2 linked regions of the Homo sapiens genome follow. The protein of the gene in region 1 purifies or fractionates together with the protein of each later gene. This does not show direct contact. Each region holds a gene or a part of one and is shown on either strand. Other genes may lie near its edges.

Region 1 (3,735 bases):
ACAGGTCCCGGAAGTAGGAGCTGCTGGCAGCAAGCACGGCCCGGTGGGCCTTGAAGGCATGGCCCTTGACCACCACTGACACGTCACAGTACAGGCCCTGCAGCCGCTGTTCATTGAGGCACTCCAGGATGCTGTTGCCGAAGTTCGGGATCTCCATCTGCAGTGTCTGGGCCATGGCAGCGGCTGCACGAGGGGCAGGGAGGAATGGAGAGACAGAGACGGAGGGACGGGGTCAGGCGGCAAATGTGGGTGCTGGCCTAGCCCTGGCCCCAAAGACCTCCCCTGCTGGAGGGACATCCGCACGATGGAATCTACCATGGTGCTAAACCACACAGAGCCCTCTACCCTATCTGTCCTGGTACAGACTCACTTTTACAATATGTGGTCAAATCTGCTAAGCTAGCTGCAGACCAGGGTGGCCACACGCTATCCCTTGCAAAGAGGAGGGGGCAAAGGCATACTTATTCATATGTACTTGAAGAGTAACTGAATATGCTTAAGTGCTCGGAAGAGTGGCTAGGACACAGTGTGCTACCTCTGAGTGCCAGCTATTGCAAGCACCAGGTACATATATGGTATCTCTTCAGGGTACTGGCATGGAAATGCCAGAAAGGCAGGGTCATCTGACTGTGCAGCAGAGTCTGCAGTGCTGGGCACATGCCCTTCAATCACTGTTTGTATAATGACTAAATGACCACTCAAGAAATTACATGAGGTCAGGCGCAGTGGCTCACTCATGTAATCTCAGCACTTTGGGAGGCTGAGGCAGGCGGATCACTTGAGGCCAGGAGTTCGAGACCAGCTTGGCCAACGTGGCAAAACCCTGTCTACCAAAAATACAAAAATTAGCCAGGTAAGGTGGTGTGGGTATGTAGTCCCAGCTACTAGGGAGGCTGAAGCCAGATAATTACTTGAACCCAGGAGACAGAGGTTGCAGTGAGCCGAGATTGTGGCACTGCACTTCAGCCTGGGGCATAGAGTAAGACTGTCTCAAAAAAAAAAAAGGAAAAAGAAATTGCATGAGGCTGGGTGCAGTGGCTCATGCCTGTAATCCCAGCACTTTGGGAGGGCAAGGCGTGTGGATCACTTGAGCCTAGGAGATTGAGACCAGCCTGGGCAGCATGGTGAAACCCTGCCTCTTACGAAAAATACAAAAATTACCCCGGCATGGTGGAGCACACCTGTGGTCCCAGCTACTAGGGAGGGTGTGGTGGGGGGTGGATCTGTTGTTGAGCCCAGGTCAAGGCTGCAGTGAGCTGTGATTGCGCCACTATACTCCAGCCTGGGATACAGACAGAGACACTGTCTCAAAAATAAATAAATAAATAAATAACTTACATGAAAACATCTCTAGTCATCAGGGAAATTAGAAGAAAACATCATCAGGGAAATGCAAATCCTAACCACAATGAGACACCATCTCACACCCACTAGGATGGCTGGAATCAAAAAAGTTGGTGAGGATGAGAAATCCAGAACCCATTTCCACTGCTTGTGGGAATGTCAAATGGCACAGCCACCATGGAGAACAGTCTGACGGTTCCTCAAACGGTTAAAGAGAGTTACCATATGACCCAGCGATTCCACTCCTGGAATTTATGCCCAGGAAAAACGAAAACATTTGCCTGCATTGAAAACCTGTAAACAAACGTTCACAGCAGCATTATTCACAATAGCCCAAAGGTGGAAACAATCCAAACGTCCATCTGCGGATGGATGGGCCAACTAAACATGGTCAGTCCATACAATGGGATATTATTCAGCTATAAAAAGAAAGGAAATTCTGACACATGCTACAACATGGATGTCCCTGGAAAAGATTATTCCAACAGAAAGAGGCCAAACAAAAGGACCACAGATTGTATGATCCATTTATAGGAAATGTCCAGGACAGGCAAATCCACGCAGACAGGAGGCAGATTAGTGGTTGCCAGGGGCTGGGAGGCGGGGAGAATGGGGGTGTGGTGAGGGAAAGCAAAGGGAAGGCAAAGGTGTGTGGGGTTTATTCTTTTTTCTTTTTTTTTTTTGAGATGGAGTCTCACTCTGTCGCCCAGGCTGGAGTGCTGGGATTCCAGGTGTGAGCTATCACGCCCGGCCTCCTCTGTAATTCTATAGGGTCTCTAGAGGGCAGTGGTCCTAACTGGGCAGAGTGCGAGTGAGAAGGCTTCCCTGAGTAAGGCAGATCTTTCCAGACACTCCAGCTGGCCAGCAGGAGAAAGTAACAAGTACATGCAAAGGCCCTGGTGCAGGAATGCACACCTTCCCTCCCTTCCAGTTAGCTCTCAAGCACCTTCCATGTTTCATTAGCAACTCCACTCAGATCTGCCTCCCTGGGCTGGGCACTGAGAATACAGTGGCCACTCTCCTCCTAATCTGGTAACACCCGTTCCGTCTGAAAGGGCTGCTGTGAGGAATAGAAACGGCAAGTGTTCAAAGGCTCAGAGGTACAACCTAAGGTTGAGTCCTGGCTCCAGCACCGACCTGCTCCTCTGACCAGGAGCTCCAAATCTCTGCTTTCTCCATTTGGAAATCGAGGCTGAGGAGGTCAACCTGATTCTACAAACTCAACCTACACTTATTGTTACTGAATGATCATTCAAGAAATTACACGGAAACATTACTAGTCATCAGGGAAATGTGAATCCTAACCACAGTGAGATACCATCTCACTTACTGAGCTGCTACCCTGGCAGGCCACAAGCAAGACACAGGCCCTGCCCCTTACAACACCCAGGCGAATGGAGGAACCAACTCACAACTTCTATGAGCTCCCCGAATCCTCTTAGCAAGACTTCAGGGCTGGTTTCATACTCCCCTTGCAAAGCTGGAAAAACTGAGGTCATGTGGAAATTGAGGACTGTCCTGAGGTCATCTAAAAATTCATTCACCAGGTTCAAAATTCAAAAGATATGTCCTGAAGGGCGGGATGACTCAAGCCTGTAATCCCAGCACTTTTTTTTTTTTTTTTTTTTTTAAGACAGAGTCTTGCTCTGTTACCCAGGCTGGAGTGCAGTGGTGCCATCTCGGCTCACTGCAACCTCCGCCTCCCAGGGTCAAGTGATTCTCAGCCTCCTGAGTAGCTGGGCCTACAGGCGTGTGCCACCATGTCCGGCTAATTTTTGTACTTGTAGTAGAGATGCGGTTTCACCACATAGGCCAGGCTGGTCTTGAACTACTGACCTCAAATGATCCACCTGCCTTGGCCTCCCAAAGTGTAGGATTACAGGCATGAGCCACCACACCTGGCCAATCCCAGCACTTTGGGAGGCCGAGTCAGGTGGATCACCTGAGGTCGGGAGTTCGAGACCAGCCTGGCAAACACGGTGAAACTCCATCTTTATTAAAAATACAAAAATTAGCTGGGTGTGGTGGCCGGTGCCTGTAATCCCAGCTACTCGGGAGGCTGAGGCAGGAGAATCACTTGAACCCGGGAGGGTGGAGGTTGCAGTGAGTCAAGATTGTGCCATTGCACTCTAGCCTGGGCAACAGAGTGAGACTATGTCTCAAAACAAAAACAAACAAAAAAACCCAAGATATGTCCTGAGCTATCTGCTGCCCCTACCACTTACATGCAAAAAGTGGTAAGGCCAAGATTCAAACCAGGGTCTGCCTAGGCACCACAGCCTGTGACTTCCCTTGCTTGTATCTTCCTTCCTCTTCCCCTCCTCAAAATCACTGCCACCATCCTACGAAAACACAAACAAAACAAAACAAAACCCCAAAACCTCCTTAGGG
Region 2 (3,735 bases), on another chromosome or scaffold:
TTATATATACTCATTTTTTAGAGGTATTGTGAAATGCTTAAAACTCAATTTAAATTCTCTCCAGTGTATGTGCTTACATGTACTTATGTGTGGCTTACCCATGATTATAATTTGCCTACCACTGGAAATAATAACCAATAATGTCGAAAATTATTTGAGTACCCTCTGAGTCACACTGTAGCAAGTGCTCATTTAACTGACACAGCACTCTAGCAAAATAAATATTTTATGCCCATAAGAAAACAGACGTTCTGAGAGAGAAAGTAATTTGTCTAAGGCTACATAGCTTGTTAGTGAAAAATCTGATTTTTAAACTTGAGTCTAATTTCAAGTTCTCATTCCACTCTACTGCATTTCTCGGACTAGGACTTAAAGAGTTTAGGTTCTAGGCATTCCACAAACAGATACTGAGAACCTGCTGTTACCGGAAAGGGGTCCCAATCCAGACCCCAAGAGATGGTTCTTGGATCTCGTGCAAGAAAGAATTTCAGTGGAATCCACAGAGTAAAGTAAAAGCAAGTTTATTAAGAAAGTAAAGGAATAAAGAATGGCTACTCCATAGGCAGAGCAGCCCCAAGGGCTGCTGGTTGCCCATTTTTATGGTTATTTCTTGATTATATCCTAAACAGGAAGTGGATTATTCATGCTTCCCCATTTCAGACCATATAGGGTAACTTCCTGACGTTGCCATGGCATCTGTAAACTCTTGGGGTGCTGGTGGGAGTGTAGCAGTGAGGACAATCAGAGGTTACTGTCATTGCCATCTTAGTTTTAGTGGGGTTTGGCCAGCTCCTTTTTTTAAGAACATCACAGGTAAAGCTCACAGGAAGGTGACAGTCTAGGAGAAGATGTTCGCAGTGTCTAAATTTGACAGGGACTTATTTTATTTTCATTATTATTGTTACTATTATTATTATTTGAGGTGGAGTTTCGCTCTTATTGCCCAGGCTGGAGTGCAATGGTGGGGTCTTGGCTCACTGCAACATCTACCTCCCGGGTTCAAGCCATTCTCCTGCCTCAGCCCGCTGAGTAGCTGGGATTACAGGCATGCACCACCACGCCCGGCTAATTTTGTATTTTTAGTAGAGAGGGGGTTTCTCCATGTTGGTCAGGCTGATCTCGAACTCCCAACCTCAGGTGATCTGCCCGCCTCAGCCTCCCAAAGCGCTGGGATTACAGGCATGAGCCACCGCACCCAGCTGGTCAGCTTCTTTACTATAACCTACCTGTTTTATTAGCAGGGTTTTTGTGTCCTGCATTTTGTGCTGACTTCCTATTTCATTCTGTGATTAAGACTGCCTTAACTTACTGGGAATGTAGCCCAGTAGGTCTTAGCCTTATTTTACCAAACCCCTACTGAAGATGGAGTTGCTCTGGTTCAAACGCCTCTGACACTATGATACAGAGAAAAGGTAGAAAATAGGAAATTCTGCTCTTAAGAAATTCATATAGTTTGAAAAAACTAATTTCAGTGGAGTGTAAAGTTATAATACGAGCACTTGTTTCTGCAGTTATACCCTTCTTTGTTGATCCTTTGCCTCCCAGCCATCCGCTGTGCCATTTTCTCTGCCTCTTCACAACAAAACTTATCCAGAGTATTGTCTCAGTGTCTTTGCTTTCTTACATCCTATTCCCTCCTTGGCATACTCCAATCTGTCTTCTGTCTTCTTTACTCTGCTAAAATCGCCAGGGTCTCCAGTGATTGATGTTACCATATCCAGTGGTTGTCCTTTTGGCTTCCTTGTATTTTGAAGCACTTGCCACACTGTGAGCCCTCCTCACTTTTTTTTTTTTTTTTTTTTGAGATGGAGTTTCACTCTCGTTGCCCAGGCTAGAGTACAGTGGTGTGATCTCGGCTCACTGCAACCTCTACTTCCCAGGTTCAAGCCATTCTCCTGCTTCAGCCTCCCGAGTAGCTGGGATTACAGGCATGTGCCACCATGCCTGGCTAATTTTGTATTTTTAGTAGAGACAGGGTTTCTCCATGTTGGTCAGGCTGGTCTCGAACTCCCGACCTCAGGTGATCCACTTGCCTCGGCCTCCCAAAGTGCTGGGATTACAGGTGTGAGCCACTGCGCCTGGCATAGTCCTCCCCACTTCTTAAAACACTTGTTTTTTAACTTCCTAAATACCACACTCTTTTTTTGTGGGGGGCGGGGGGGCAGCGGGTAGAGACAGGGTTTAGCCATGTTGGCCAGGCTGGTCCCGAACTCCTGGCCTCAAGTGATCTGTCTGCCTGCCTCGGCCTCCCAAAGTGCTGGGATTACAAGCATGAGCCACCATGCCCAGCACTAAATACTGTACTCTTCTAGTTTTCCTTCTTTCTCCTGTGCTCTTTCTCACACTAAAATATTACAGTGCCAGGCTTTGTTCAGTCTCCCTGGGTAATACCCATTCCCAGGGCTTTAGATGCCATCTGTGTGCTTATAACACCCTAATTTATATATCTAGCCTAGCACTTTTCTCCCTGAAATTAAGATTGCTCTTTGACCTCTCCATTAAATTTATTTCCAATAAATATCTCAGGCTTTCCTGTTGCATGTAGTGGTACAACCATTTATTCACTTGTTCAAGTCAAAAATCAAGAATTATTCTTAATTCCTCTTTTTTCTTTATTTCTTATGTCCAATTAGAAGCCAGACTCATTGACTTTTAACTTCAAAATACATTTCAAATCAAGTCACTGGGAAAATAAAGTCAAATAACAAGTGATCTCTGCTTCCAAAGATTGTTCATAGTAGACTGGCAAACTAATTAGCAATTATGTGAAGTGTAGTAGGTATTAAAATAGAAATCATAGGAGCGTTGGGGAAGACATCTGAAACAAGCAGAACAGAGGCAGTAGGTGTGAGAAGAGTAAGAGAAGTCTCTTGCGTAAGTGATGTTTGAGCTGGTATTTTTTAGAATTTCTGTAATCGTATAAGCAGGCAGTGTCCACTTTAGACTAAGAGAACTATATTTTTTAATGCAAATGCTATTATGATGCAGAATGATTTAGCCGGGGTTCTTCAAGTAGCTTAGTGTGGCTGCAATAATGTTTTTTGAGGATTAGGTCAGATAAGGGAGCAGGATCCAAATCATGAAGTTTCCTAAGCAAAAGAGTTTGAAGCTTATGAACTGGATATTTTTGAAATAGGACTTAACACACCAGCTTTGCTACTAATTATATGACTTCGGGCAAAAGATGTTTAATGTAAGTAAAAAGCTATTGAGACCTTTTTTAAAAATTTACTGGGAATAAACATCTTAATTTATGTCTCCTGTTAAAGTGTTACTTGTTTGCTTTGAATTTAATAAAGTTAAGCTCCCTCTGCTTGAGAGTGGTCCAAAATATGCTAGGATTATTTCATATGAGCATTGAAAAAGGAATCAGTTAACTTTTTATATTCTGAAATTTTACTGCCTAATGAGATTACAGAAGACACTATGTGTGCATGAGTACGTGTGCACGAGCGTGCATGTGGAGAAGGTGCAGGAGGAGAGAAAGAGAAATCACCAATGCAACAGCAGCCTACTCCACCAGTGGGTTAGTGCTGCTGGAGGGAGATGAAAAGATTAGGAAGGTAAGATAGCTTTGAAGGCTTTGTATTCTAAATTAAGGAGTTAGATTTTTAACTGTCACGTGAGGTAGGCATTATCATCATTATTTTACAAACACAGAATCAGACTCAGAGAAGTAATCTGGACAAGGTTACACACTTAGTACCAGAGAAGCTGAGATTCAAACTCAGGTTT

What was found.
Region 2: the proteins of NACC1 (region 1) and XPNPEP3 purify together in Homo sapiens (affinity purification with mass spectrometry, with the first as the bait; one large-scale study listed by BioGRID). This does not show direct contact.

The regions. Positions count from the first base shown.
Region 1 is NC_000019.10:13,131,648-13,135,382, reverse strand, and holds part of NACC1 (nucleus accumbens-associated protein 1), read right to left. Parts: intron 184-3,735; 5' UTR 176-183; coding exon 1-175. UniProt on the Homo sapiens protein: Functions as a transcriptional repressor. Seems to function as a transcriptional corepressor in neuronal cells through recruitment of HDAC3 and HDAC4. Contributes to tumor progression, and tumor cell proliferation and survival.
Region 2 is NC_000022.11:40,863,544-40,867,278, forward strand, and holds part of XPNPEP3 (xaa-Pro aminopeptidase 3), read left to right. Parts: intron 1-3,735. UniProt on the Homo sapiens protein: Catalyzes the removal of a penultimate prolyl residue from the N-termini of peptides, such as Leu-Pro-Ala. Also shows low activity towards peptides with Ala or Ser at the P1 position.